Linked DNA regions of Homo sapiens: region 1 is linked to region 2. Evidence: fine-mapped expression QTL. A gene starts in region 2. The other region holds a variant in brackets. All regions are shown on one strand. Distances are from middle to middle. Region 1 holds the start of LOC124902379 (a long non-coding RNA gene). Region 2 holds the start of FRMD4A (FERM domain containing 4A).

Region 1 (15,030 bases), 630 kb before region 2:
GACACAGCCTATCATTTGCGCCCATCTGGTTGAGTTTTACCCTCTAAGCAAGCATGGCGAGTACAACCCATGACTTCCTTTCTTTCTACATCGCTCTGTTATGGAGACCCAGGTTTTAATAAAAAGTAGCCCACTCCCAAACGGTGATGTAACAATAACTCACGAAGGCCTAGACCAATTCAGTGCTGGGTGAAGGGTCTGGGCTCTGAAGTCAGAATGACCTGAATTAGAGCTGGGCATGGTGGCTCAAGCCTGTCCATCCCAGCACTTTGGGAGGCCGAGGTGGGTGGATCACTTGAGGCCAGGTATTTGAGAACAGCCTGGCTAACATGGCAAAACCCTGTCTCTACTAAAAATACAAAAATTAGACTTGTGTGATGGCACACGCCTGTAGTCCCAGTTACTCTGGAGGCTGAGGCAGGAGAATTGCTTGAACCCGGGAGGCGGAGGTTGCAGTGAGCTGAGATCACGCCACTGCCTGATCTCATTCCAGGCTGGGTGCTAGAGTGAGACTGTCTAAAAAAAAAGACCTGAATTAGAATCTTGGCTCTTCCCAGTGAATCACTATCGGACTTTGACCCTTCACCTTCCTGATTCTCAGATACATGTTTGTAAAATGGAGGTCTTAAAACCCACATCCCAGAGTTGTGATAACTAAAGTAGATAATTTATGTAAAGGCCATCGTAATAAGAATAGGATCTGCATTAGGGCCTGGCTGTAATTTGCTAACTGAGGTTAGATTGATGGCCCAACCAGATATTTTGGGGACCTCATTAATCACATGAAAAACTTATCCCCCTTGTCATACCAGAACTCTTGCCACACATCATTCTTAAAACAAAAATATGAGATCAAAAGGCATCCTTCCTAAAGGAGACTAGATTCCTGGAAGCCTTATGGAAGCTTTAGCAAACTACTGGATTTTTTTTTTTTTTTTTTTGAGACAGAGTTTCACACTGTTGCCTAGGCTGGGGGAGTGCGGTGGCACGATCTCAGCTCACTGCAACCTCTGCCTCCTGGGTTCAAGCGATTCTCCTCCCTCAGCCTCCTGAGTAGCTGGGACCACACATGTGGTCCACCACGCCTGGCTATTTTTAGTAGATACGGGGTTTTGCCATGTTGGCCAGGCTGGTGTCAAACCCCTGATCTTAGGTGATCTGCCCGACTCAGCCTCCCAAAGTGCTGGGATTACAGGCATGAGCCACTGCGCCCGGTCCGGATTCTTTCTAGAATGGAAAATATCACAGCGACCTAACAGACTCGGTGGGGAGAGGACCGGGAGGACATGGGCATTGTCGGGGAGAGTCTCTCTTTGCAAAGTCAGGTCTCTGGGCTGACCTTAAGGAGTCCCCAGACTCTGGAACATTTTGGTCTGGGAGTCTTGGCTGATACACGTGACTCAGTCTTCTGTCTGATATTGTGGGAACAAAGCTTCAATGTCCCTGTCCCCCTTTGACTCTGCCTTTGACTCTAAATAAAATGGTGAACTGCATCAGGGAGAGAAAAAAAAAGATTAGGAAGAAGGAAAGACGTTTGGATTGGGGGCCAATTCAAGAAGTCCCCACTCTGAGTTCAGAGGGAAAAGTGTCTAATGTCGACTCTAAACATTTTGAACTTTCAAATATTTTCCTGCAAAGTCTCTAAGACGTTCCTTGGCTCTGGGCTTCAGAGGCTGCTGGGATCTAGCAGACAACGTTTCTGATCTCTGGGGTCAGCATAGAAGTTACCAATTATAATTGGTGCCTGTGCAGCTTCTCATTCTGAAGGAGCTACAAATAACCAACCAGCACAGCCTCCCTCCGCCCTGTCTTAGATCGTAGAATGGTTTCTTGATGTATATGCATGGAGAGCTGATGGAGGGAGGGAGGGAGAGACAGGCAGAGAGAAAGAAGGAGAGATTTCCTTAAATGATTTGCACAGTGACCCTGAAAGAAGAAAAAACCCGAGTGTCAGGGGAGCACCTGAACCCTCATGGCTCCCTACCCTTGCTGACTCGAACCACTAGACCTCACTTGTCTCTCTAGGGTTGATAAACATCATTTGGGAGGCCTGGGCTTTGCTGAAGCTCTTCAGAGAAAGGAATGGTTGGCATGTCCCAGTACAGTAGAGTGTGAGCAGTGGCCAGGATACCAGCCAGAACTGGCTGCCTAGAAATGTTATGAAGCTCTCTGTCCCAGCCCTGTCGGCCATCACTCACCCAGAGGCCGTGCTGCCCATCAGAGATCAATCACATCGCTGTTCTATAAAGAACATTCCAGAAACAGAAAGGTGTTGTAATGTAATTCCCAAAGGGTACGTCATCATCTCTGATTTAATTTGCGGGCCTTTTAGAGAATTTAAACTTCATGCAAGTGTTGGCCAGTGATAGTATGCTAGATTAACTATGACATTAGTAAAAGATGGCACGTATTTCCTCAAGCAATTTCACAAACGTGGTGCCATCTGACCAATCACTAATTGAGGTCAGGAATTTCCTTTGCTGCTAATTGGGGAAAGCAAAACACCAAGGATGAAAGACCCACCCGGGGTCCCAGAGCTGGAAAACAGAGGCCTCCAATTCCCACATAGAGGGTTGTGATCCTCACCTGTCACTGCAGGCTGGGGAACTGGTTCCTGTGAGAAGTGTGAGGGCTCTAGGACATCTGTGAGCATGCCAGGCTTCCTGGGAAATGTTCTCCTTCTCCTTCTGGGAGCGTGGGCATTTTCTTCAGTCCCCAAGGGTTACTTTTACAAAAGGGACAGCTGAAACATTCCTAATGCTATGGGGCATTTGGTTTTACCTCCTAAAAGACACGTCTTGTTGCTAATTTATCTACAATAATCTTTTTTTTTTTTTTTTTCTGAGATGGAGTCTCACTCTGTCAACCACGCTGGAGTGCAGTGGTGTGATCTCAGCTCACTGCAACCTCTGCCTCCTGGGTTCAAGCAATTCTCCTCCCTCAGCCTCCCTAGTAGCTGAGATTACAGATGCCTGCCACGATGCTTGGTTATTGTTTTTTTTTTTTTTTTTTTTTTTTGTATTTTTAGTAAAGACTGGGTTTCCCCATGTTTGCCAGGCTGGTCTCGAACTCCTGACCTCAAGTGATCTGCTCTCCTCGGCTTCCCAAAGTACTGAGATTACAGGCGTGAGCCATGGCGGCCGGCCAATAATTTCCTTTTGAGATATACTTGCTGTGTCAGTGAGTTGACCTGTTAGCCTGTTCAACAACAAGGCTTGCCAACTGCAGAATGAGCCCATCTTCCCGGGTGCAGCAGGAAAGCCATAAGAACAAGTTTCTTGAAATGCTCAAGAGACCGCCTATGCAAAAACCGGCGCAGAGAGGAGGAGCTTGAACAGCCAATGCTGTGCTATCCTCAGGGCGAGATACACCTTTTCCTCTGTCCACACTGTGGTACAGTGCGTGGGGGGTCTGCCGTCAAGGGGAACTGGCAGTGGGGTTCAGGAGCATTGCCCAATCCCCTAACCCCCACCATCCATCACCCAACCACAGAGGGTGAAATTAACGTTCTCAGGTGTCGACCTCCAACTGTTGCCCCTGGACAGCAAAACCCTGACACCCACCCACTGTGTCAATATCGAGCATGAGTCAAAAACACTTTGGCCCCATTTCTTTTGATCTAATCGAGCTTCAAATTCCTGCGCTAGGACTAGGACCCATCACTGCCAGGAGAGCTGCGGAGAATACTGTCATTATTCCTAACAACAGAAATTCTCTGTCCTGCGCTCATTCATCCCAGAAAATGACCAAAAAGGGGGTCAGAAAGTAGAGGACAAGATATTTTACAAAGGATAAAATGACGGCTGCGGGGGACAGACCCCAATTTAAAACTGAATTATGACTAAAGGGATTGTTTCATTTCGTCCTGTCCTCTTTTCTTCTTTTTTTTTTCTTTTAGTAGAGATGGGGGTCTCACTATGTTGCCCAGGCTGGTCTGGAATTCCTGAGCTCAAGTGATCCTCCTGCCTTGGCCTCCCGAAGCGCTGAGACTACAGATGTGAGCCACTGTGCCCAGCCCTGTCCTCTTTTCTTTCTCTTATCACCTCCCCCTTGACCCCCAATTCGCTCACTCTCCTCTTCCCCAGAAAAAGAGAAACCCCTTAAAATATGGATAAGATGGCAAAAGAGAAAGAACCCTAGAGGGCACCGATTCAGTGACTCTTGTGCCCAGTAAGTTGAGCATCTTGCCACCTTCTCCCAAGAACTCACGCGATGGAGGGAAATCCTCCGTAAGTGCTAGAAACCACTAGCCCAGGGGCCCAGGGTGACCTCAGTCTGTATTCCCCCAGCCCAAGCCAGCAGGATCTTGAGAGAAGCTGCAGGGCCATCTTGGCAGGGCTCTTCCCCTGAGGGAGAATGAATGGGAGTGGCTTGTGGGGGGCTGACAGGGGAGTCTGGGGAGACAGGGCTGGAGGAAGAGGGGGCAGAGTGTTGATATAAGCCCTGTGTGAACCAAGGAGACGTCATCCTCTCACCCACCAGAAAACGCAGCTGCGTGCCCAGAGTCAGGGGTGGTGACATCTCCTTGGAGGAAGTCTGTTTACCAAGGCCCCAGGCTCTAGGTCTACCTTAGGGAAACAGGGTAGTTGCTTTTTTTTTTTTTTTTTTTTTTTTTAACGTTTCCAGTTTTGCATTAAAAAAAAAAAAATGGAGTTGGCAGTTGGAACCGCCTGAGGGTTTTCACAGCAATTACCCTAAACAGTTAGGTGGTGTCTATTCGTTGAGAAAGATTCCTTTTTTCTTTTCAAAAGGAAGATAGTATACCACTGTTTAAACACCAAAAAGGGCTTGCCTTCACGCTGCTAGAGGATTCTCCCGAGGGCCAAAAGCACAGTGGGAATTCCTCAAAAGGGGCCTACCTGGCTGCAGTCAGCGGCTTGAGCGGCTCTGATGGTGGTCAGAGCCCCCTGGACCAAGATGCATGGAATGTGCCCTCTTGAAGAGCTAGTCTCATCCCTCCCATCTGTAGCCCTAAGAGGCAAGCCTGTATCTGTGCAAGGTATGGACCCGGGCAAGGGACATGGCGCCTCCCCCACCCATCCGATCCTCATTCCTAAACTAAGAGAGGCAGACAATGGCCCGGGCTTGGTGAGAGGTCTGGTCACTCACCTTACTCTGCTTTCTGTCCAGATAGAACTGGTGTTGGCTTATGGCCATAGCCCAGATGGACTTGATCAATGCCGGACATGCATACCACGTGTGCACTGCAATGCCGCTGTGCCCAAACGTCCTCCTTGTCACTGAAGCCCTGGGGAAGCAAGAATCACAAGGTTCAATCCCATTTCTGTTGAGAGAAACCATTTCTCAGTCAACAGCTTCTGTAGAGAACCCACTGCGTCCTAGAAGCCCTGGCGTAAAGATGATAGATGAGCTCTCACATACACCTAGGCGTACACACACACACATGCGCACACAGCTTACAGACATCATTGGCTGGGCAAAGGCCACCTTCTGATTTTCTGACTCCCTAGAGTTCAGAATCTGGCCAAGCCTCGGCCTTGTCTGGGATAAGATGGGTCATTCTAGGTCAATGGATGGTCCTTTTTCGATCCTGGACTTGGCACTGGGCCAAGACAAACTTCGCAGACAGGAAAACCTTCAATGATGCTCCCTATGAGACAGGAAATGTGCCTACGGTGGGGATGAGTAAATTATTTTCTAATCACCACAGGCTACAGCGTCCCAGGGAATTGGGACTTCTTATATAACTAACCCAATGTTCCTTGAAGATTTGGTGATCAATTTCCAATCTATTCAGAGGGCAGGGAGGGTATAAAGAATCAGGAGAAGAAAGGCAGAGAGAAATGTGCCCAGCCCCAATTCCCCCAACGTCTGTCGATACATTTCATTTATATTTTTCAGATGGAGTCTTGCCCTGTCACCCAGGCTGGAGCGTGCTGGCAAGATCTCAGCTCACTGCAACCTCCACCTCCCAGGTTCAACCAATTCTCCTGCTTCAGCCTTCTAAGTAGCTGGGATGACAGATGCCCCCCACCACTCCGGGCTACTTTTTTGTATTTTTAGTAGAGACAGGGTTTCATCAGGCTGGTCTCTAACTCCCGGCCTCAGGTGATCCACCTGCCTCGGCCTCCCAAAGTGCTCGGATTACAGGCATGAGCCACCGCACCTGGCCCTGTCTATACATTTTTAAATCTACATGGAGTAATCAGACTTTAAAAGTGAAAACGGGAACTGTTCATCTCCACATTCATGGAGTTAGGGGGAGTTATATGGTCATGCTCTTAGTGAAGTATATTTTATAGGATAGGCAGATTATTTTGCAAATGAAATCTAAGAATGTGTGTTTGCATGTGTGTGTGTGTGTGTGTGTGTGTGTGCGCATGCATGTGAGACAAGTTGACAGGAAGGTGGGCTGGGATTTGGGGCATTTTACATGGACATCAGAAACAAAATGTATGTTCTCAAGACTAACATATCTAATTTGGAAGAAACCTGGGGGTAATCAGGACTTACAAACAATAACATTTTTTTTCATGGCTAATTTTCCCTTAAAGAAAACAAAGCTGCCAGCAATATCTTACTTTGGGCGGGGGTCGGGGGTGCTAAAGATTTAAAGTGGAGTCTTGTTCACCCTCACTTTTAAGGAGAAATTCAGATCCGGTGGTTAATGTTACTGAGTCCACACAGGTTTTTTCTCCCTTCGGTTCCAACAAAAGTGAAGGAAAAAAAAAAAAAAAAAAGCCAGAGCGTGAAAGAGCACACAGTTGAAAATAATTGAAAAAAGGAGCCAGGGAGAGAGCGAGGGGGAGATCCCTCGCCAGTCTCTCTAAATTTAAAAGAAAACAGGGATCTGTGCTCCCAGCTTGGCTTCCATAGCAGTTCTTGCTCTTGGAAATAAATGAATGACTTTTTTTTCCCCCCAGAAAAGCTGAATTAGACAAGAACAGTATCTTGAAAGGTGGTGCAAGGCTAGGTACCTCCATTTCTCAGGTACCGGGAGGGCAGAAGAGGTAAGTGGCTGGTCAGGTCCGGGTAGTTCCCCGGAGCATCTAAATCAGATACTCAGAGTTCTTCTCCTGCTCTATCATTACTTTATCTCCTCTCCTCATCTTTCGCTTCAAGCCCTTCCTATTTTACCCAAACCGTAGAAGTGAAATATTGGCCCAGCCTGGAGAAGCTCAGAAATGAAGCTAAGCATTGAGTTAGGATGCCCAGGGGGAGAAAGTGCACAGTGTTGTCCAGTGCCCCACAGGGAATGGTGCAATCACACCTGAGCCCATCGGCCCAGAAAGCAGCCTCTGCCCTGAATCATTCCCATCGATTACATCTTCATTAAATGACCGTATCTGGCGTTGCCCATCCTATTACTGCAGTTCTGACTGCCTTCCTGGCTTGGGGGAGGGGCTGAGCCCGGAACACCAAACTAACGTGAGGCCAATCACATTCCTCTTCCCTACCTCAAATAAGCAAGGCCACAAGCAATAGGATGACACATTCAACTTAAAAAGCACCGCGAGGTTCACTTCAAAGTAACTGGAAGAGAGGACTTGCAATGATACCAACATAAAAATAGTAAACACTGAGGCGGGTGGATCACGAGGTCAAGAGATTGAGACCATCCTGGCCAACGTGATGAAATCCCATCTCTACTAAAAATAAAAAAATTAGCTGGGTGTAGTGGCGCACGCCTGTAGTCCCAGCTACTTGGGAGGCTGAGGCAGGAGAATTGCTTGAACCTGGAAGGTGGAGGGTGCAGTGAGCCGAGATGGCGCCACTGCATTCCAGCCTGGGGACAAAGTGAGACTCTGTCTCAAAAAACAAAACAAACAAACAAACAAAAAAACACTCAAGGCCATGGATACCCCACGTACCCTGCCTTGATCATTCCATGTTCTATGCATGTAACGCACTCACACGTGGCTCATGAATACGTGAAATAGTAACTCTCAATACAAGAGAAAAAAGGCACCACTAGGATGTGAAAAAGAGAACTGAGTGCAAGAAAGATCTTACAGCTCATAGCTCTGGCTCTGCCATGCTAAATAACTGACCTGAAGCCATTTCCTTTCCTTGTGTGTCTTTAATGCTGAAGTCATCCCGGGTCTCCACCTCTGGCCTCCCTGGGCCTCTCCCCCATTCCTGCCTGTCTGCAGGCTAACTCAGTGTACTCAGAGCGAGTTTGCCTGGGACGAGACAGCTCTGCTTCTTCCTCTGGGCTCCTCCAACTCCCACTTCCCTCCAGCCAGACCCTCCCTCATTTGTTTATCCTAATTGAGAAGCCCCCACCTGACATCTATATCCCCCTGAGGCCCTACCACGTGGCTTTAATCCTAGTTACCCCTCCAGGTCCAACTCAGACCTCTCCTTCCTGGTAAGCCTCTCCCTTCCTGACCAGCCAGGCCTCTGGTGACCCTGTCCTTCACCCTTCATGGCCCACGACGTCTGGCCCTTCTGTACAGTATAGAGATAAAGGGCATGAGCTCTGGAGCCAGACCTCCTAGGTTCAAATCCTGCCTCTCCTGTATACTAGCTACTTGTCGTCTAGAGCAGGTTTCTTTGTTTCTTGTGACACTCCATGAGTTCCTTCTTCTCAGCCAGGTTCCAGGCAGTGGCTCACGCCTGTAATCCCAGCACTTTGAGAGGCCAAGATGGGAGGATTGCTTGAGCTTGGGAATTTGAGACCAGCCTGGGCAACACTGTGAGACCCAGTCTCTCCAAAAAAAAAAAAAAGCTGGGTACGGTGGTGTGTACCTATAGTCCCAGCTACTCGGGAGGCTGAGGCTGAGGTGGGAGAATTGCTTGAGCCTGGAAGGTGGAGGCTGCAGTGAGCTATGATTGCACCACTGCATTCCAGCATGGGCGACAGAATGAGACCGTGTCTCAAAATAAAAGTTCCTTCTTCTGCCTGTCTTCTCAGTTACACTAGAAGATCTTTAAGGAAGAAGACCCTGCCTCCGACTTCCTTCCTTCCCCGCCACAGCACCCGACAAGGACACAGAAGCTTCGCAAGAAACATGACATTGATCACTGCTGTCTAATAGGCGACAGGCCCACTGAATAGTCACGTGTGAGATCTAGATTCTTTCCTATATCCCTGGGCTTTGGTAAAGAGAGTTTAGCAGTACTCACCAATAGGGCGACAGACGCACAGAGAACACGAACACACATGTGCAGATATATGCGTGCGTGGTTAAAGGATTTGTCCAAGGTGCCTGGGTGTTCACTGAATTCCCAGCAGAGCACAGGCATGGCGGAGGGTCTATTCCCTGCGCTCAGCCCCTTAGATTACCCAGCCCCTCATTTTTATCCTATGGAGCATCCCCTTTCTGCATCTGACCCATTGTGGCAAAGTTCATTTCACTCTTTCTGTACTTAAATTTCCCCTCTCTTACATGCCTAAGAACCTGGTCCAATTCAGTTCACCTGGAAAATGAACAGTGAGTTTCTTCTTGGCTGGAATCTTATTTTTGAAATCTCCCCGCCCACCCCACTTGGCCTGCACAGATGGATCTGTGCTCCATGGAGTGGGGCTTCTGGCCGCGAAACCCCTTGCAGGGCCCTGAGAAACACCGGATAAAATATTTTTCTGTTAAAGGCTACCATTTTCACCTGACTGTGGAGATGCAGAAACTCTCAGCTGCTCTCCACTAACTATTCCTGTAGTAACCGTGGTGCTGAGATAAGCTCTTGCCCTACACAGGAGTGGCTGTTTCAGGCAGATTACCCTGGAGGGCAAGCACGGCTTCATTCCTACCGGGTTATCATGGGCTGCAGGAACAGGGGCTACTGCACAGGTCCAAGCCCTCTCACTGGGCGGGGTAACTCCAAATCTCCCTCCTGTCCAGAGCTCATGGGGAGGGACTGCAGCT[T/C]GTTTTGAGCATCAGAAGCCATGTGTGAGCTGGAATTGGTGCCAAGTCCTCCTTCTAAGCCCAGGGCTGGAGCGTCAACAGCGCCTAAAACCCACTTTTGCTCCTCTGTAGAGTCTGATCTTTTTTCTGTCTCCCTGGGGCTACCTTCTTATTGTAAATGTCTCTGACCTTATGGAAAGTGATTTCTTAGTTGTCAGGCCTGGTTTTAGGGAATTACGCTGCTGTTTTTGGGGATGCATATAACTTTAGGTCCAGCGGCAGACAAAGAGAGGAAAACAGTGGGTATGAGCTGCCCAGACCCCAGCCACCTGGGGCTCCCTGCATTCCAACCTGGGGCCCCACTGTCTTGCATCTGACTTAAGAGTACAGGGACTTTTTACAACCCTGGTGCTCTCTGGGGTACGATTTTGGGTGGAGGGAAAAATAATTTCATTTCTTTCACATCCACCCACAATACTAACATCCTAAAATTACAGCTCCTGGAATAAAACAACGTAGCACAACTGCTTTGGTGACAAATTCATTTTCGCATTGACCGTCCTGCCTGAAATACTTTTAGAAGCTCTAATGAGGGATTCTTCAGACTCTTCTATAGCAAAAGTTTCCTATGGGGACTTACTGGTGTGTGTTACAAAGTGCTATAAAGCTTCCTTCCAGTGCCCCGGCAGGTAAGACAAACACATACACTGACACACACACACACACACACACACACACACGAGCCAGGGACACATGTGGCCAGATGAGACAGTCAGGGGATTGCTACTTACACACACGTGCGAACCCACTGCATTTATCAACACATGTAATTGAAAAGAAAGTTTCACTGTCTGATTTGAGCTCCATTCCCCAGGAGCCCCCACCCTCGCTCCCTGCTCCAAACTGACCATGAACAACGACAGCCCCAAAATAATATCCATAACACGCCCGGCCGAGAGCCACGCCATCCCGCAAGAAAAGGACTTTTCAAGCTTACCTGCGTGGGTCATGAACTTCCACGGAAAACTTCTTTTCTCTGAAGTACAGGTTTTCCAACTGTCTCCATTGGAATATCTGGACAGAAAACAGTGTAGTTTAAAACTCAGGAGGGGCTGGCTCCTGGGCCATCTTCCCCTCTCTGCTGGTTAACTTTCGACAGCTGGCAGTTTCCTTATCAAAACAGAGACCGTAGTCTGTGCCTCCTCCGCCTCTTGCTTGACACACACACACACATACACACACACACGCAGCTCTCCAGTTCAAAACCAGGCAATGTGGGTGTGGATTTTCCTGCAGGTTCCTTAACTGGAACAAAACAAGTTCTTTTCAAGTTCTCCGCCTTCGGTCGGCCTTTGTTGGTTTGGTCGTGGCAGTCCCCAGCTTGGCAGACTTTTCCCTTCCAGGAGAGGGAGGAGAGGTGGAGACCGGGGAGAGGGACCCAGCAGGGAAGGCGGCGGGTGAGGGGAGAGGAGCGAGAGGAGCGAGCGCTCAGGAGGGAGCGGTAGCCATCTGCGTGGAGTGCTGAACTGAGCTTCCTCCCCTCCAGTGCTGAAATGGGAAGGCGTTCAAATTCCCAGCCTCCCATCGGGACTCCACTTCCTGCTCACTAATGTGTAAGAGCCTTGCAAAGGGCGGAGGAGGCTGGGACCTTATTTCGGGGGCAGGCAACTCAAGATCACAGTGTGAGCCTGTCAAGCCCATTCTTCTTGCTGCAGCACAAAGAAAACCAAGAGTTCTGTCGCCCGGAAGGACGCTGCGGCCAGAGTCTCTCCCTCAAGCTTGGCCAGGGAGGGTGAGAAGTGGAATGAAGGGGCCCTGGCGGTCATTCCTCCTTCGGACCAGTGAGCTCGTTAACTGAGAAGCTGACTGTAATGTTTGGAAGTAATTAGGGCTGCATCCAATTGCTCCAGGAACGGGGTTCCTTTCATTGGATGAAAAAGAAAGTTACTTTAACCCTCTGGGAAATATCACAGGAGGTTCAACTTGTGTGCACACACATTTGCATTAATATTTGCTGGTTACTGCATCACCTTCCACATACTGGGAATTTCGGTTTATTTTGCGGAAAGAAGGGGTAAAGTAGGAATCTTGTTCTTGTCTTTCTGCGGGGAACAGCTTCCCTGGGCTCCCCCCTTTCTCTGGCCACTGAGTTAAATGCTTTTCAGGGTCTTACCCCAGAGTCCTCGGACCTCAGGCTCCTGACCCTCTCTGACCTGCTCATGTTCTGCCCACCTTAGAGACGTGATGGCCATTTCCTGTATCTGACCCACCCTGTCTTCCCAGGCTGGGGACACTGCTAGTCAATGGTTGGCTAGTGGACCTAGCACCCCATATAAAACTGGGCTGGAATAAAAACTGCTTCTGGAATGGCCACATTCTTTTATCCTCACAATCTGCTCTCTGGAATTTTACAATTATTTTGTCTGCGTTAAGTACTGGGAAGGAGAATATCTATTATCTCTTATTACAGAGTTGCCTCTTTTGTCCCCGGCTCAGAGTGCATTTCACTCTGAAGCCCAAGGAAATTGTATTTTTCTTTCTTGTTAAGCATCAACTCCAGGTGGGTGGAGAGACACTGCAAGGAAAGCAAATGGCCCAAAGCTCTATGTTGGCTGACAGCTTTGTGTCAGAGATTCAACAGCGCCTTAGCGGAGTCTATTACTAAAATACACAGACCCAGGTCTCATGGTCCTGTCTGATGCTTGGCCACTATAAATCCTTCCATTAAAACACCCAAATTTCCTCTCTGGTCCCCAGGTATTATATATTCAGCGACATTCCACCTGAACTTAGCCAGAGCTACAAAAATACCAGAATGAACAGGTTCCACGACATTGGCCTCATAGCCTGGGGGCAGTACACTGAGCAAAGCGGTCAGGCAGGCAGGCTTTGTGGTCTGACTACATCTGTTTGAATCCAAGCTCCACTACTTTTTTTTTCTGAGACAGACTCTCACTGTGTCCCCCAGGCTGGAGTGCAGTGTCACGATCTCGGCTCACTGCAACCTCTGCCTCTCGGGTTCAAGCGATTCTTGTGCCTCAACCTTCCAAGTAGCTGGGATTACAGGACTATGCCACCACACCTGGATAATTTTTGTATTTTTTAGTAGAGATGGGGTTTTGCCATGTTGGGCAGGCTGGTCTCCAACTCCTGGGCTCAAGTGATCTGCCCGCCTCGGCCTCCCAAAATTTTGGGATTACAGGCGTGAGCCACCGCACCCAACTCAGGCTCTAAGCTGCTGGACCTGACACAAGTTACAGCATTTCCTTTAGCCTCAGTTTTCCCCTCTGTAAAATGGCAAAAATAACCCCTCTAAGGTAGATCTCAGCAGCCACAGATCGTAGCACAGTACCGGCACAAAGTGACCTTAGATCTTACTATGAATCCCAAATGCTCTTACTTCTCCCAAATCCTTGCAGATTAAAAGAGAGTAACTCCAGAACAACCAGAATCATTCTTTTCTTAGATTTCCTAACTCAAGCCCTGAGTTTTGGATTTAAAAAAAAAAATATGTGTGTGCTGCAAATCCTTAAATACAGAGAATTTTTCTCCCAGTGCCTCTCCCCTCCTCTCACGTAAGGGATGTGGATGGTACTTCAATGAAAGGGTCCTGTTGGCTGCATACCACGGCGGTCCCTCAGCCGCTATCCTGCACCCGCCTTGCTCAGGCAAAGTGAAGTCTTGAACAGGATCGGCCTTCTGGGTGTGCGACCTGAGGGCCCTTTGCTCAGAAGGTCCTTGGCTTGATTTCCTGCTCTGCTGTTGATATCTTGAAATTCCTAACAGGTTTTTTTTTCTTTCTTTATATCTTTATTCTTTTTTTTTGTCTTGTTGCTATACGCTTTTTAAAAAATTAATTTCCATAGGTTTTTGGGGAACAGGCGGTATTTGGTTAATTAGTTCCTTAGTGGTGATTTATGAGATTTTGGTGTGCCCATCCCCTGAGCAGTGTACACTGAACCCACCTAATGGGTTTGATCAAGGGGCCCTGCATTTCCATTTTGCACTGGGCCCTGCTCATTGTGGACTTGATCCTGGCCTTAGGTCCTGGCATGTACTGGTGCTGGCAGGCTCTGTGGGGTAAGGTGCCTGCCAGCCTAATGGGCAGGCCTGGGAGGTGGAACCCTCAAGCCCTCCAAGAGAAGGAAAGAAAGCAGAACCAGGTGTGAGCACGCTTGAGAAAACCCCTGTGCCTTTCATGGGAAGCCCCCCTCCCCACCCGATGAAGAACCCCAGAGCAGAATGCTCCGAGGGGTTGTTTCCCTGGCAACTCCTGTCTCCCCCATTCCATGCAAAATAAAACACAAACCAAGCTTTGCTTTAAGTGCTCCCTGATGCAGTTCAGCGTGGAGAACTGCGCGTCTGCCAAAGAGCCCGAACAAAACCATCTGGACTCTGCTGCATGGCCCCGTCTGTGGCTGCTGTAGCTGCCCGTGGGAAGGCCCTGCCTCCAGCTTCTGCCCTTGGCTGCGAACCATGGAGTCCCGGCTCCCAGGCCTATCCCCGGGATGATGCACTAGACATTTTTGTGGCAGGGTGCAGAACAATGGATTCCCCCTGATGCTTGCTTTAAGCATGAATTTTTGTTTTGCAAATGCAATCCTGGGAAGGAAGGGTAAGAGTAAAGTGAAGGGATGGGTGGTTTTCAGGATCAGATTGTTGCGTTGAGACATTAGAAGGGCCCAGGAATGGGCTGGGTATGGTGGCTCATGCCTGGAATCCCAGCACTTTGGGAGGCTGAGGTGGGCAGATCACTTGAGGTCAGGAGCTTGAGACCAGCCTGGGCCAACATAGCAAAACTCCGTCTCTGCGAAAAATACAAAATTTAGCTGGGTGTAGTGGTGGGCACCTGTAGTCCCAGCTACTTGGGAGGCTGAGACAAGAGAATCACTAGAACCCGGGAGGCAGAGGTTGCAGTGAGCCAGGATCATGCCACTGTACTCCAGCCTGGGCGACACAGCAAGGCTCCTTCTTAAAACAAACACAAAAACAAAAGGGTCCCAGGAACAGAAGAGAAGGTGTGCATGTCAGAACAGTAGCCTGATCTGACTTCTCTTCACTTAGGAGGGAGGGGGTGAGCTAGGGAGCAGGAATATGAAGGCAGTAGGGACCAGGAGGGTGGAAGCAGCTGCCCCTTGCCCAGGGCCGGGGTGCAGCTTGCTGGAAAAGCATCATTTTCTTCATGGGGTCTGGGGCATTTCTGCCCATGGGCCCTTGAGGC
Region 2 (15,030 bases):
ATAAATTTGTACACTAAATAGTAACTAAAAATATTAATAGCAAGATCTCAAAGATACCCATTGGGAAATTTTACCTTGGGTGCAATAATTTAAGCTTAAGAAGGGTTTTTGCCACTGACTTGGAGGTAACAATGACATGACCATTTCTCAGGGACTTTTTGACAATTATCTTACTTATGAATAAACCAGAAAGATAGATGATACTAAATATTAGTTTCGCCCTTAGACCCAAATATCTAGGACCTCTCCCCTGGGCCCCATGCCTGGATGGCCCCATTCTGTATACAGTGGTTTAGGTGGCTTCACTGTATTACTATGTAATTATTATTCTCCAAATTTCCATAAAAGTTGTCAATATCACTTTTTTTCAAACATATGCATGAACCATCATGAAAACTTGAGTACTATCTTAATGCTATTTATTTATTTATTTATTTAGAGATGGAGTCCCGCTCTGTCACCCAAGCTGGAGTGCAGTGGCGTGCGCCGATCTCGGCTCACGGCAACCTCTGCCTCCTTGGTTCAAGTGATTCTCCTGCCTCAGCCTCCCAAGCAGGTGGGACTACAGGTGCACCCCACCACGCCTTGCTAATTTTTGTATTTTTAGTAGAGATGGGGTTTCACCATGTTGGCCAAGCTAGTCTCAAACACCTGACCTCAGGTGATCTGCCTGCCTCAGCTTCCCAAAGTGCTGGGATTACAGGCATGAGCCACCGCACCTGGCCTGTATCTAAATTTTATCGCAAATTATCTGAGTCATCTTGGGCAAGCCCTTTGACTTCTCTGGACCCCAACTTCACCATATAATAGGAAGATGTCCTGCCTAACCTGCCTGGAGTGTTGAGGACATCCGGTGGGACAACATCTGCAAACGCACTTTGAAAAACATAGAGATTATTAATGTAAGAGCAAGAGTCCTTAAGACAAAACTCAATTTTATTCTATGCTTTTTGACAGTTGGGATCTGCGGAAAAGCCATAGGCTTATTACAAATTCTGAATCTCTTTTCAGGATCTAATCTGAATCTATCAGATTAGACCTCTCACAGGTCAAATGTAGAGAAGGATTAGATTATAGTAATAGAACTAGGACCTTGATCACATCTCCAACTGGCCTTTCTGATCTTGCAACCCTTTGTCACCTACAGGAAATCTGCCCAAACCAGTCTACTCCCCGTCTCCCAAACAAGATCCAGACTTTGTTGTATTCAACCACTCCCCTCACCTCAAATCTGCTCTCTTAACTCATCCATCACTCAACATCTTGCTTGAACTTCAAGAACAAGTTCATCCACTCTGACAACCAGCGCCCCCTAGGGCTCACTTGGTGATGAGTTAGGCACTGTTTTGTTATAGTTCTTATGTGATTCTCTGAAGACGTCCTGTAAATTTCTCATTGTTACAGTTCCTGCGTATCTCCAACCTGTCTTGACAATTAGACTGTAAGTATGCTAAAGCCAGTCACTGCCTTGTACTCTTCTTGCACAAAGTAGATACTCAGCAAATATTTGTTGGTTAGTTAAAAAGGAAATTGTCCAAAGGAGGAAAATGGCTTAGAAAAGAATTTATAAAGAAATGAAATGAGGGAGATAAACTCATAGAACAGCAGGTTACCCATTGAAATCTATTAAACATAGACAAGGGAGCTGGTCTATTCAAAAGAAGCCCAGAAATCTGAAATCAAATATTTAGAATGGAAAGAAACTTCAGGATAATCCAATTGACATTCTTCATTCATTGTGGTTAATCACCCACTAACTTCTCTGACTTGTGAATTGAGTTTTTATACATTTAATTTTTTATGTTATAAAATATGACTCTCAGTAATTTCCTAGAAACAGAGTCTGAGAGAATAGAACCTTGAAAAAATGGCAGCTATTTCATCGATATAAAAAAATATTTTTTCTTGCTAGAGTCAAGCCAGACATCTTGAGCCAGACTTGTGGTATCCCTTTTTTATTTTACACTTCAATATGGAAAAGAACAGATGATTAACAGAAAGACAGGATTCCTCACCTGGAAACACAGAAAATGCTGACTGGTTCAGAGGGGAGCTAACTTCAGGAGCGAATCCAAAGTGTTAGAAGGTCCTAGAAGTCAAATTGTTGAGCTTTGATATGCTGTCAGAGAAAGCACTGGCTTGGGACTCAGAGGACCGAGATTTTGAGAACTTGCTTCATCAGTTTCACTTATGTGACCATTGACAGTTTCCCAAATTCTAATTATCAGATTTTTTTTGGTCTTAAAAATAGGGTCATGGATGGAATTAAATGAGATAATGTATTTAAAGACACTTCATTTATAGAAAAGCTTAATTTGCATTATTTATTATCCAGTTAATTTCCATTAAAAACTATTTTAATCTAGCTGTCCTGAAGGTGAGCCTTTATAATCTAAGAACCGAAATGGCATCATAACACCCTTGAAGCCCCTTGGTTATTCATCCTTATCCTGGCTCTAAAGATAAACTAATCCTCGGCTCTAGCATGTTCCAGCCCTTGCAGCTTTCCCTGAACTCACACGCCCTCAACAAATGACACGTAGCCAAGAGCTTCCCGCTCTACAATTAGTCACATCAATCTGAAGCCTCCTCACGGGTTGGTGAACACAGCAGTATCTTCTTTCGCTGCCTGAGATTCTTGCAAAGATGGGAGAGGCAGCTTTTCAACAGCCTAAAAGGCCATCTCCACCACCAGAATGTGTCTTCTCTCCAAGTCCCCCCTTCCGTGGTCATATGAGTGGCTCTGTCCTGTGTGGAGAGGCATCACTGCCCTCTGTGAGCTGTCCGTTGAAAGAATCAGTGAGGTCCTCCCACCTCAAGATGGTCCAGGCATGCTTACCACCTGGGACCCCTCCCAGCTGACCGCAACCCAGCCCTAGCTTGAAAAGGCCTCTGAGACACTGTTCAAAAGTCATTGGCTTTTGTCCAATGGACCAACTTAGGTTCCTGTGGGGTAGACTCCTGATGGCAGAGTATGAATGAACACTAATGATCATCCGTGTCAGCTAATAATATGAAACATATCTGCCCTAGCATAAAAGCCAGAGTGGGAACACACTCCACCATTTTCATAGCAATACTGCTCATGTGCAAGGTTGGAAATAGAGACATAACGCTAAATAAAGCCCTCGAATTGGCTATCCTGGAACTTCATCTGTACACTGTTTCTTAGAGATCTTAAATTGTGTTTAACAGAATGGAAGGGAACCTAGACATCAGAGAGCACTCTCAGTTAGCAAATGGCATCACCAAGGCAGAGAAAGGAAGGGACATTCCCAGGATCACTCAATGAGTGGCAAGGCTAGAATGGAGCACAGGGCTGTCCAACCCTCCAGACTCTGTGGCCGCTTCTGTAACCAATTAAACATGCTCTGCCCTGAAGCATTTAGCATCTAAGCTGAATGTAACCTCTGGGTGTCTCCTTATCCAAAAGCAAGGGGTGTGGCCAGATCATCTCCCCACCTACCCCTTAGCCCCGATGACTCCATAGCACAAAATCAGAACTGCAATCCACCAACCTGGTATCAGCCTCCCACAGACTGTGTGTTTATGAGCTCTGGCTCTTGCTGTTATGCCAGGCTACTTTCCTCAGTGAGCAGACACGCGATAAATACTGACAACTGATTGGCTGATGAATGAGCTCATAAATAATAATGTTTACAGCTTCCTTCCTGAACTCACAGCCAAAGCAACTCCGCTAAATGGCCTCTTTTCCTCCTTTCTTTCCTCCTCGGCTTGCTTATAAATTTTAAGATGCATCATGCAAGATGTCAGGGAAGCAATTACTTTGGGGTTTACCCTTAAAAAGGAAAAAAAATAGCACCAAAGTCCATAGGGGAAAATTTCCCTGAACTAAACATGAACCAGAAAATGTATACAGACTTTGATTACACATGGTACTCCAGGGTTCTTTAATCAAACGGTCCATCAGGGTGTCAAGAGCTCTTTCCCCTGGTTTCCAAGAGAGGAGAACACGATCCTTTTTTCCGGGCAGGAGGAGAGTGCCAGGGACAGATCTAAGGGCAGAGGCCACTGACAAATGGAAGGTGAAGTCTGAGATGTAGACACTACCAGGACAGCAGCCATAATATGTGGAAGACCCAGGACCAGAAGAGCCTGTGTGTGTGTGTGGGTGGGGGGGGGGGGTGTATAACAGCAGAAATGGATGCTATTCATTTAATTTGGATACCAAGGATTCATGCTTAGGGGCTTGGAATAAAGCAGATACACATCTTTCTTCTAAGTATAGAAGAAAGGTCCAAGTAGGAGGCTGAGACAAGCGGGTCTAACTCTCCCTAAAGATATTTTTCAAGAAAACTTTTCTCCTCTATATTAACACGATGCAGGATTTATTTCTGTTAGTGTACTAGATAATATAATATACATATGCATGTGTGTGTGTGTGTGTGTGTGTGTGTGTGTGTGCATATGTGTGCCTGTATTTCAGAGCATATAACCCAGGCTCCCAGGTTCCCAGAAGTCTCCTAGACCCCATAGATAATGCATTTTAGTGCCAGCCATCATCACGAATACTCAGTGATGGAATGAAAATTCCTATCCAGTTTATTTGACCACAGGTAGACGATGGAGGATAAAGTATCATCAGACGATAGAATTAGTAAGGGAAAGAAGTCAGGTAATGGGTAATTTCTCTGGAAACTGACAATTTCATTTCTTCTAGTCCTACTCCCCCAGTGAAATGAGAAGTCAGCAGAGGCCCATGAGATAGATTTCAGGCAATTCAACTAAATCTGTGGACCCAGTGGAATTTTGAGCAACGAAGAACCAAGATATCTGTTCCTTTTAACATGACCTGGCTTGCCACCCAGGGGGCAGGCTTCCCACTGACGGCTCTTCCAAGTCACCTCCATAAACTCATCAGGCCTTGCAAAGTTGCATTTCCCCTCCTCATTCCGAAGACACAAATCAATATACACAGAAGCACTTATGCTTGGTTCATAAAATCTCCTGTGTAAATGCTGGAAACATTTCCATGCCAAGCCTGATGCAGGCTACTTCCGACAACAGCCAGTATTACCGTGGTGTGTGGGAACCCTGGGAAAGGAGAGAGATGCAAAACCATGGCAAAAGCCACTGCTGAACCTAGTGTCAAGCCAAAAGCCAATTGGGTTGGAACAAGACAGTGCCCATGTCCTTGTGTGCTTTAATATGGTAAGAGCTAGGGCTTTCTTAATATGGTGAAAATTCCAGAGGGGCATAAGGTGAGTCAGCTGCTCACACACAGATAAATGCCTGGACAAGTCCTGCCAAGGTTGGCCATCAATGGTAGATAGGAAACAAGCTGCTCCCAACTCAGTAGCCCAAGCATCACTGAAGCCACAGTGAACCTCCTCCACCACCTCTACAGGAAAGTATGAGCAGATATATGGGCGCCTAGAAAGAAGACCCCATTCTGTCACCCCATGGGCAACAGATTCCACAGTTGCCCTGAGAAGATATCCAAAAACAAACACAATCAGCTCAATTTAGATGCAAAAGACAAGGGGGAAAGGATGCTGGGAGCTGGAGGAGGCATCCTAGCAATCTATTTCGAGGGGCTCTTAGCACCTGTTTGCAAGCACAGCTCTCAAAATAGCATTCAGCAACAAGTTTCTGAAATGGCAAATCTACAGCTTCTTTTCCCTGCAAGTGCTTTGTCATGCTGATACTCTGACCCAAGAAAGCATTTCCAAAGAGCCTGCGGGATAAAGCGGAGCAATGTTGAACATGTCTGCAGCCACTGCAGCGGCAGCAGCAGCCCACGGTGCAGGGGAGGCTGGAGTGGACGCTGCCCGGGCCCCACCTCCTGTCTGAACACTCACCATCAGCAGGCCGAGAGCTGAGTCGGGCACCAGCTGCACTGCCATGGTCTCCGATTCCCATGCACGAATCCTGCTGCCGAGTCAGTCCTCCTGGGCCCCGGGTGGCTACAGAGCATCCAAAAGCACCTGCAGAAAAAGCAGCCAAAATCCAGACTTAGGGAGCAAAAGGCTCAAGGGGAAGATAGGCCACCTTTCACACAGGGTGGGGAGGAGGTCAGGGAAGACAGGGTGGGAACTGTGCTTAGGGAGGAAAAAAAAAAAAAGAAGAAGGAAAATAGGAAGCTGCAGGTTATTTAAAAGTGAGCCCTCCCTAGCTTCGCAAAGCGGCACAGACAGGGAGACCGCATCAAACACAAACGTGAAAGCTTAGAACACGGAATGTTTAACTGCTACCTTCGCCCTGGCAGCAATTCTTCCTTTAACTGACAATTAAAATAAAACATTCCCTATTGCAGATAAATCAAGCAGCCCGAGCCACCCCCTCTCTCTGCATCTCTCAGCAATTCTGCTGCATAAACATGCTGAATGTCACAACATACCGCTCGCAATCTGGTCAGTGTCTTCTTTGCTGCAGATAGGTGTGTCCCTTTTTGCAAAATCAGATATCTGGGAGTGAGACAGCCGAGTCTGACCATGAGGCACCAGGCAGTCACTGGAGATCAGCAAATGCCCTTACCATCCCCGAGGAGGAAGTCACTTAGGAACTGACCCTTCCACCTTCCCCAGATCTACTTTTCCTCTCCAAGTAGACTGGCCAGCTCAGCTCCCGGTAGGGCTAACATACTTAAGAGGAACATGGAATTGCACTGCCTGTTCTGTGAGCGTTCTGATCTCCCTGGCTGTACCACATGTACGCCGCATACAGACACACTCTACCTCTCTCTCCCTCCCTTCCTCCCGCCCTTCCTCCCTCCCATCCCTTCCCTCCCATCTCTCCACAGGGCTGCCTGTTAGGAATTTTGAAGGAGCCTCCCTAGTTCAGGGAGGCATAGGAGGTGAATTTGTCACAAGGGACACTGCTTAACAGGAAAAGGCAAGTTAGCCTTGAAAATCATATCATGCAGCATTTTCCCCGGAAGATGTCAATGAAGGGAGAAAGAAAAAACCTGCCGAATCTTGTTATATAATGGGTAGCTCAAAGGGCTTTCCAGAGTCAAAGACTTAAGAAAATTAGATATCTTTTCATGAGCACTGTCAAGCTTGTATCTTCTTCTGGAGTCCATGTATTCAACTAAAAATGGTTATTCCTGATACTTCTAGTATGTCCTTTTCTGATTTCTTCCTTTACTCACCTCCTGTAATGGCTCCAAAAAATCCTGAAAATTAACTAGACAGTGTGAAATGTAGAAACATAGAGAACAGTTTTCGAAATAAGAAACTAGGGGGAAGAAATTAATGACCTTTCATGTTCCTGTGCACGAGCATAGCTACTGTTCCTTTATTACTTATACTTTTAAAACTATTGATTTGGGCCAGGTATGGGAGCTCACACCTGCATTCCCAGCACTTCTGGGGGTTGAGGCAGGAAGATAGCTTGAGACCCAAAATTCAGGGTGAGCCTAGGCAACATAGCAAGACTTCATCTCTACAAAAAAAAAAAAAAAAAAGAAAAATAGAAATAAAAGAATTAGCCAAGCATGGTAGTGTGTGCCTAGAGTCTCAGCTACTTGGGAGGCTGAGGTGGGAGGATCAGTTCAGTCCAGGAGTTTAAGGCTGAAGGGAGCTATGACTGCACTCCTGCAATCCAGCCTGGGGGACAGAGCAAGACTCTGTCTCTAAAAAAATTTAAAAATAAAAAGTATTTGCTCATCACAGTGCTTAGCACAGAGTAAGTACTAAAATATATTCAATAAATGAGTGAAGGCTGGGTGCAATGGCTCACGCCTGTAGCCCCAGTACTTTGGGAGGCTGACGTGGGCAGATCACCTATGGTCAAGAGTTCAAGACCAGCCTGGTCAAGAGTTCAAGACCAGCCTGGTCAACATGGCAAAACCCTGTTCTATGAAAAACACAAAAATTAGCCGGGTGCGGTGGGCACCCGTGTTCCTAGATACTTGGGATACTGAGACAGGAGAATCGTTTGAACCTGGGAGGTAGAGGTTGCACTGTGGTGAGATCGCACCACTGCACTCCAGCCTGGGCAACAGAGCAAGGCTCTGTCTCAAAATAAAAAAAAAAAGAAAAGAAAAGAATAAAACAAAATAAAATAAGTGAGTGAAAAATTTTCTCCCATTTTGTTTTTCCTATAGTGGCCCAATGAGCTTGAACCTTGATTCCACAGTGTGTGGATGGAGTCTCATGTTACTGATCCCCGGAACACCAGAGCAACCCTCCTTGCCAGCAGGTGCCTGGAGATTCAAAGCATGACTTGAGTCGCATGCATGTGGCCTTGCACAGAACTGTCAGGACATTCTGACTGTGCTGGTGGATTGCAATACTATTCAAAATAATATGTATAGTCACATTTGAAAAATAATAACAATGATTTAAGGAACAGGTCTATAATAGTGATTTAAGGGACCTTATCCTAACTTTTCAGATGGATTTCTAAATGTATTCAACTGATATTTGCAGAATGCCGACTTTGTACCTCTGCCCTCAAGGAACTTTTTATCTGGTAGAATCATTAATGATACAAGATAATATGTAAGAAATGCAAAAAAAAAAATCCCAAATAGTTTGGATAGCACAGAGTAGGGAGGGCTTACCATTTCTTTTTTTTGTAGCTTTTGCACTGGAACTTCAGGAACAGCAGAACATCTTTTTCAGGACATTTGCTTTCTGATTCTACATGGACTATGTGTTTGGAAAATAACCAAAGCTAAGAAAAAACGTTAATATTGGAGCTATTGCAACTGGTGGATATGGGCAGAGAAAAGACAAACCCTGAGGAGAGACAGGCAGGAGCAGCCTCAGGTATGGGACAGTCTGGGACATCCTTAGGTTGCAGAGGCCGGCCTGAGAGATTTTGTGTCAGCCCTTGACGTTGGCCCCCAGAACACCCGCCTTCCTCTCTCAGCACTTCACTCATGGCTCCTTTGCCTGGAAAGCCTCATCCCCTGTCTGCTTGAATTGCAGCCCAGATTTTCTGGAAAATAGCCTGCAGCAAATCTTCTGCAAGAAGACATCATTGGGAGGTGCAATTTCAGGGTGGCAAGAGTGGGGGTGTGGGGAAGGTGAGGCAGGGATGGAATGAGAGCAGGTACAAGGTGGGGTTGACCAAAGTGGGCATAGGACAGCTACTCAGTCCTGAGGAAGAGCTTCCAGACAGGTATGGAACTTCCAGTTTTTGGCATAACCCATCAAGGAGACGAAGGGAGAGGGAGCTAACAGCCTAGTGCTGTCCATTAGTTGACTCTTTTTGGTCAAATTGATTCCATCAGACATTAACCCTCTTGCGCTTCAGGGTTATGTTACCAACTCCCGCAGGTAGGCATGAAAGGCATTGCATCTGAGCCCAGAAGATAAGGAAGAAACCATAGCCTCTGTGAGTCAGTCAGACAGGACCTGGGCCCTGGGGTGGTGAGGCTCCTGCCTCAGTGTGTGGGATGGAAACCCTCCCTGTTCTGTCCTGGGAGGCTAGGACAGCTAGCAGTGCCAGGAATTGAAATGACAATGGCAGCACCTGGGATTCCCAATGAGCAAGTGGCTCAATTTGCCCAGGGAAGACAGGAGGAGCCAAGTAAATCTGGGAAACACATACACTGAGTCTGGTAACAGCATATACGTTCACACAACATTCAGTGTCAAAAGTTGCATACTTCATGAAATTCTTCCCAATTCCTCTATTTGGGCATTCATAGTTGCTTTGTTTGTACAACTTTTAAATTCCTTCTTTAAAAAAATTGGCAGTGATTTGCTTTTCTCTAGTATCCCCCTACTAGAGAGGAACAAACTAATTTCGGAACTGAGCATTGCTCTTCTCTGTTTACTTCTACAGCTCCAAGCATCGAGCTCAAACAGCAGCCCATGCTCAATAAGATTAAATCAGGCACCAATGGAGATATCAAAATGTAAAGCGCAAAGAGGAAGAGGCAATGGCAAGACCTCAGGGAGTGGATAGGACATGGGGAGTTTGTGAGGACAGGTCACAGGCTGATGGAGAAGGAGTTGTCAAAGGAGGAAAAGGAGAAGAGAGCTCCCAAATTCGAGTGGCAATGGTCATTCCACAAAGATGCCTGGGTGGGGTGGAAGGGTGTTTCAGTACAGTTTCGGACACAGAAATCGAACTGCAAGGGGTTATCGAGCAGCTTGTGAGGAAGAGAAGTTAATTCATATTAAATAGGCCCTCATCAAAAAGCAGTGGAATATGAGCTATCCAGGTCCTTTCAAGAACTAGTTCAAGGTCACAGAAGGAAGAAGGTGTGGGGACAGCAATCCCATCCTCTGAGTCACTAAACTCGATTCTTGGTTAATCTTACCTCCCAAGAAAGCTATATATATATGAAATCCATTTCAATGTATCCTCCTTTAAAAACTCCTCAAATGAAGCATAGTTCAATGTCACACCCATCGCAAAAAACAGCTCTTCATAAACCTCTTCTGGGCCAGGTGCAGTGGCTCATGCCTGTGATCCCAGCACTTTGGGCGGCTGAGGTGGGTGGATCACCTGAGGTCAGGAGTTTGAAACCAGCCTAGCCAACATGGCGAAACCCCTTCCCTACCAAAAATACAAAAATTAGCTGGGCATGGTAGCACGTGCCTGGAGTCCCACCTACTTGGGAAGCTGAGGCAGGAGAATCCTTTGGAGGAAGGTGGGAGGTGGAGGTTGCAGTGAGCCAAGTTTGCACCAATGCACTCCAGCCTGGGACACAGAGTGAGACTGTATCTCAAAACAAACAAACAAATACTCTTCTGTATTTAGCGTGAAGCTGTTGTTCAGACATTGGCCATGAGACCACCCACTGCCATCTATATAAGTTGCCCCAGGTGAGAAATTCCTCTCAGAATCTAGTACAAAGGAAAATGTCATTATCCTGAAAGAGCCTGTGGTGTGGGTGGCTTTGGCCCCAGAACACCTGCCAGGCCATTTTACTCTCAGGAATCTGAAGGCTTATTCTGTCATTTTCTCTAGGATCCCGAGCAAGAATTACAAGGGTGAGGTGAGACTCAAAGAAAGTATTATTTATTAGAGATTTTCTTAAGTTGCACATAGTAGACATTCAATAACTGTGAGTTCTCTTTTGGTCCCCTTTTAATTCTGATAATGAGAATAGTGTACCTAATCACACTTGGCACACTGGACTTCCAGAATGCCCAAAATCTAATTTTACTTTCAATGACAGCAGATACTATCATAACTGGCATTATTACTTCCTTCTTTTCTTTCAATCTTATTTTTCCTTCTAATGCATACTCTATTACTCTTATTGAGTAGGCCTTTTTGTCAGTAAGCCATCTGAAATTCATTTTTAGTAAGAGATGGGACATAAATCACTCATTAATGTATACACTGTGCTCAAGTAGATTTGGCACACTGTGAAATATTTTGCAGCTATTAAAATGGCAATTATGAAACTATTTAGAAGTATTGCAAATGTCTGAGATATGTTTATTTGCAAGTAATATGAGACATATTCTCTAATTGCAACCATGTAAATATTTGTATTTTAAGAATATGTGAAGAACTCCTGCTTCTATCCAAGATGGAATTAGAGGGAGCAAGTCTACACTTCACATGAAACAAACAAAAAATGTAAAATATACGGAACAATACTTTTCAAGTTAATGGACATAAGACAACAAATGCCAGTGATCCATGAAAGATAAGAAACAAATTAGAGAAGCCTTACAATTGTCCCAGGTTATTGAATCAAGAGTATTTCCAGGCTACGGAACCGAGAGTGGAGCTACGTGGAATCAAGTGTTCTCCAGAGTCATGGAGACAGAGCTGAGAGTCAGGAAAGATTGGGATGAACACAGTTCACAAGACAGAGCACCAAAGAGAAGACAGGTGTAAAGAGAAAGAGAACTTCTGAGATCTTCAAAGAGTCCCCATGAGCACTCAGTTGAGTGCTGATCACCACATACATGTGGGGAAGCCACTCAAGGCTGGGGAAAGAACCACATAAAAAGATTGGAAAGAATGGTGACCAGTGCTCACCCAGGGCCAGAACAGTGTCTGCTCACATCCGCCAGACTGGAGAACTTCATAATTCCTAATACATTATTAGAACACTCAGATGGCTCTTGCCTCAACAGTGAGAAATAATTGGTCATAGATTGATCACTGTCCTGAATCTGCCTAACCATTCTGAAAAGTAAGACCCAAAAGGATTAAACTATTTCCACGTAACTTAACTGGATTCCAAACAAACTTAAAGAACATTTATAAAATTACAAAAATATCCAACTCTCAATGAGGTTAAATCTATAATGTAAATTTACATTGTGTATAATTTACATGTAGATTTATAAACTAGAATGTCATCTGATAAAAATTACCATGTACGAAGAAAGTAGGAAGATATGGTCACTAAATAGAAAACAAATCAATCAAAATCATCCAGAATGAACATAGATGTTAGAGTCAGCAGAAAATATTAAAACAATTATTATTGTTTAAATAACATTAATTATTAAAACAATTTTGAATATATTGTATTCAATATATTCAAAAAGTTAATTAGAAACATGGAAAATATTTAAAAATTCGAAGAACAAAATAAGCATCAGTCAGCTATAGGACATCTTCAAGTAGCCTGATAGATATATCATTTGTATCCTTGAAAAAAGAGACACACAGAAAATTGAGTTGAAGAAATAATAGCCAACATGTTCACAGATTATATGCTGAACAAATTCTAAGCATTAGAAACATGAAGAAAACTACACCAAGGCACTTCATAATCAAATTGCTCAATATCAGTGATAAAGAGAATATTTTGGAAGCAACCAGAGAGGAAAAACATATATCACGTACACAGGGACAAAGATAAGGGTAACAGTAGATTTCTTTTTTGGAAACAATGCAAAGAAGAATCCAGTAGAGCAGCGTTCTTCTAAAAATTTAAAGAAAAATTATCAGTATAAATTTCTATACCTACAAAACTATCTTTCAAAAATGAAAGCCAAATAAAGATTATTTTAGACCCACAAAGTAAATAAAAGGCAAACCAATTTGAAAAGAAGTAAAAATTCTCACAAAGAAAACCCCAGGCCCGGATAGATTTACTGGTGGATCCTAGCAAAGATTTAAGGAAGATTATACCAAATTTACATACATTCTTTGGGAACACTGAAGAGGAGTCAATACTTACGAACTCATTTTTGTGACACCAATACTACCCTGTTATCAAAATCAAAGACAATAAAAGAAAAGAAAGCAACAGATCCTTGTCCCTCATAAGCAAGAATGCAAAAATTTTAAACAAAATGACACCACATAGAATCCAACAGTATATTAAAAAGATAATGCACTGTGGCCAACCAGTCCATATTCCAGGATTGCAAGGTTAGTTTATTATTCTAAAAGCAGTCAGTGTAATTTACTATATTAACTAACTAAAAAAGAAAAACCATGTGATTAGCTGAATGGATGAATAAAAAGCATTTGATAAAATGCAACATCTATTCCTGATCTTTTTTAAAAAAATTCAGCAAACATGGAGTAGAAGGGAACTTCCTTAATCTGATAAGCATGTACAAAAATGTATAGCTGTCTGCATAATTAATGCAAAAGATTGAATGTTTTTCCCCTAAAATCAGAAACAAGGCAAGGGTGACCATTCTCAGCACCTTTCCTCAACATTACACTGGAAATTCTAGACATTGCAGTAAGCCAAGAAATGAAGATAAAAGCTATCCAGATTGAAAAAGAAAGTAAAACTGTCTATAGTCATAGCCAATATGATCTTTCATATAAAAAACCCGATGGAATCTATTAAATGCTAATAAGCAAGTTTGGCAAAGTTGAAGGATGCAAGGTCAATTCAAAAATCTATTGTGTTTTTATATAGCAACAACAAATAAAAGGAAATGTAAATTTAAAACACACTTCACAGAAACTTGTACACGAACATTTGTGTCAGCTTTATTTGTCATAGTGAAAACTTGGAAACAACCCAAACATCCATCAATGAGTAAATATATAAACAAATTGTATATATGTATAATGAAATCTTATTCAGCAATGAAAGGGAATGAAGTACTAGTATGCTACAATACAGATGAACTCAAAAAATATTACGTAAATGAAAAAACTAGATGCAAAAGACCACACTTCGCTTATGAAATTTACATGAAATATATATTTAAAAAACCCACACCCATGGAGATAGGTGATTGTTACCTGAATCCACAAGGGGAAGCAGGGAGTGGCTGCAACTGGCCACAAAAGGTCTTTAAAAGTGTTCTAAAATCGCACTGTGGTGACGGTTGCAGAGCTCTGGAAATTTACTGGAACTGAACGGTATGCATTTGCAATAGGTGAATTTTATGATGTGTAAATCATACCTTTAAAAAGCTGGAGTTTTTAATAAAAATGAATGAGTTATTAATACAGTCAACAATGTGGATGAATCTCAAAATAATTATACTGAGTGAAAGAAGTCAGACAAAAAAAGAATTCATAATCTATGGTTCCACTTATGTAAAATTCTAGATAACTCACACTAATACATAGTGACAAAAAGCAGATCAGATGCCTGGGGAGCAGGAACAGCATAAGAGAAACAGGGTAGGAGGGGGCAGAGGGGAGAAATTACAAAGGGGAAACTTTGAGGCAGTGGATATATTCACTATCTTCATTATGGTGATGGTTTCACGGCTATATACATGTGTCAAAACCCATTTAAATACGTGCAGATGACTGTATGCCTACTCTACCTCAGTATAGTGGCTCTTTAAGGGACATGAACGGTAGGATAACTGCAAAAAAAATACAATTAGTTGTTACAACGCTGCGAGTAAGAGTGATTTTCTTCCTTCCTTCCTTTCTTTCTTTCTTTCTTTCTTTTTTTTTTTTTTTTTTTTTTTTTTGATGGAGTCTCGCCGTATCGCCCAGGCTGGAGTGCAGTGGCGCAATCTTGGCTTACTGCAACCTCCACCTCCCGGGTTCAAGCGATTCTCCTGCCTCAGCCTCCTGAGTAGCTGGGATCACAGGCATGTGACACCATGCCCGGCTAATTTTTATATTTTTAATAGAGACGGGGTTTTGCCATGTTGGCCAGGCTGGTCACAAACTCCATACCTCAGGTGATCTGCCCAC

Evidence for each region. PIP is the estimated chance that this variant, and not a neighbour inherited with it, causes the effect.
Region 1: its variant is fine-mapped to the expression of FRMD4A in whole blood (TOPMed, PIP above 0.99).

What each region holds. Positions count from the first base shown.
Region 1 is chr10:13,696,231-13,711,260 of GRCh38, forward strand. It overlaps FRMD4A (FERM domain containing 4A), which reads right to left. Exons shown (of 25, transcript NM_018027.5): 13 at 10,807-10,883; 14 at 5,110-5,248. It overlaps LOC124902379 (a long non-coding RNA gene), which reads left to right and starts at 11,336. Exons shown (of 2, transcript XR_007062061.1): 1 at 11,336-11,422; 2 at 11,525-12,180. It overlaps LOC105376426 (a long non-coding RNA gene), which reads left to right and starts at 14,258. Exons shown (of 4, transcript XR_001747371.2): 1 at 14,258-14,424. RefSeq lists a silencer at 4,514-4,563 and enhancers at 11,272-12,007, 11,416-11,465, 11,496-11,545, 11,616-11,675. The variant T/C (reference allele first, on the strand shown) is at 9,831.
Region 2 is chr10:14,324,236-14,339,265 of GRCh38, forward strand. It overlaps FRMD4A (FERM domain containing 4A), which reads right to left and starts at 6,689. Exons shown (of 25, transcript NM_018027.5): 1 at 6,362-6,689; 2 at 5,823-5,948. The coding sequence starts at 5,867.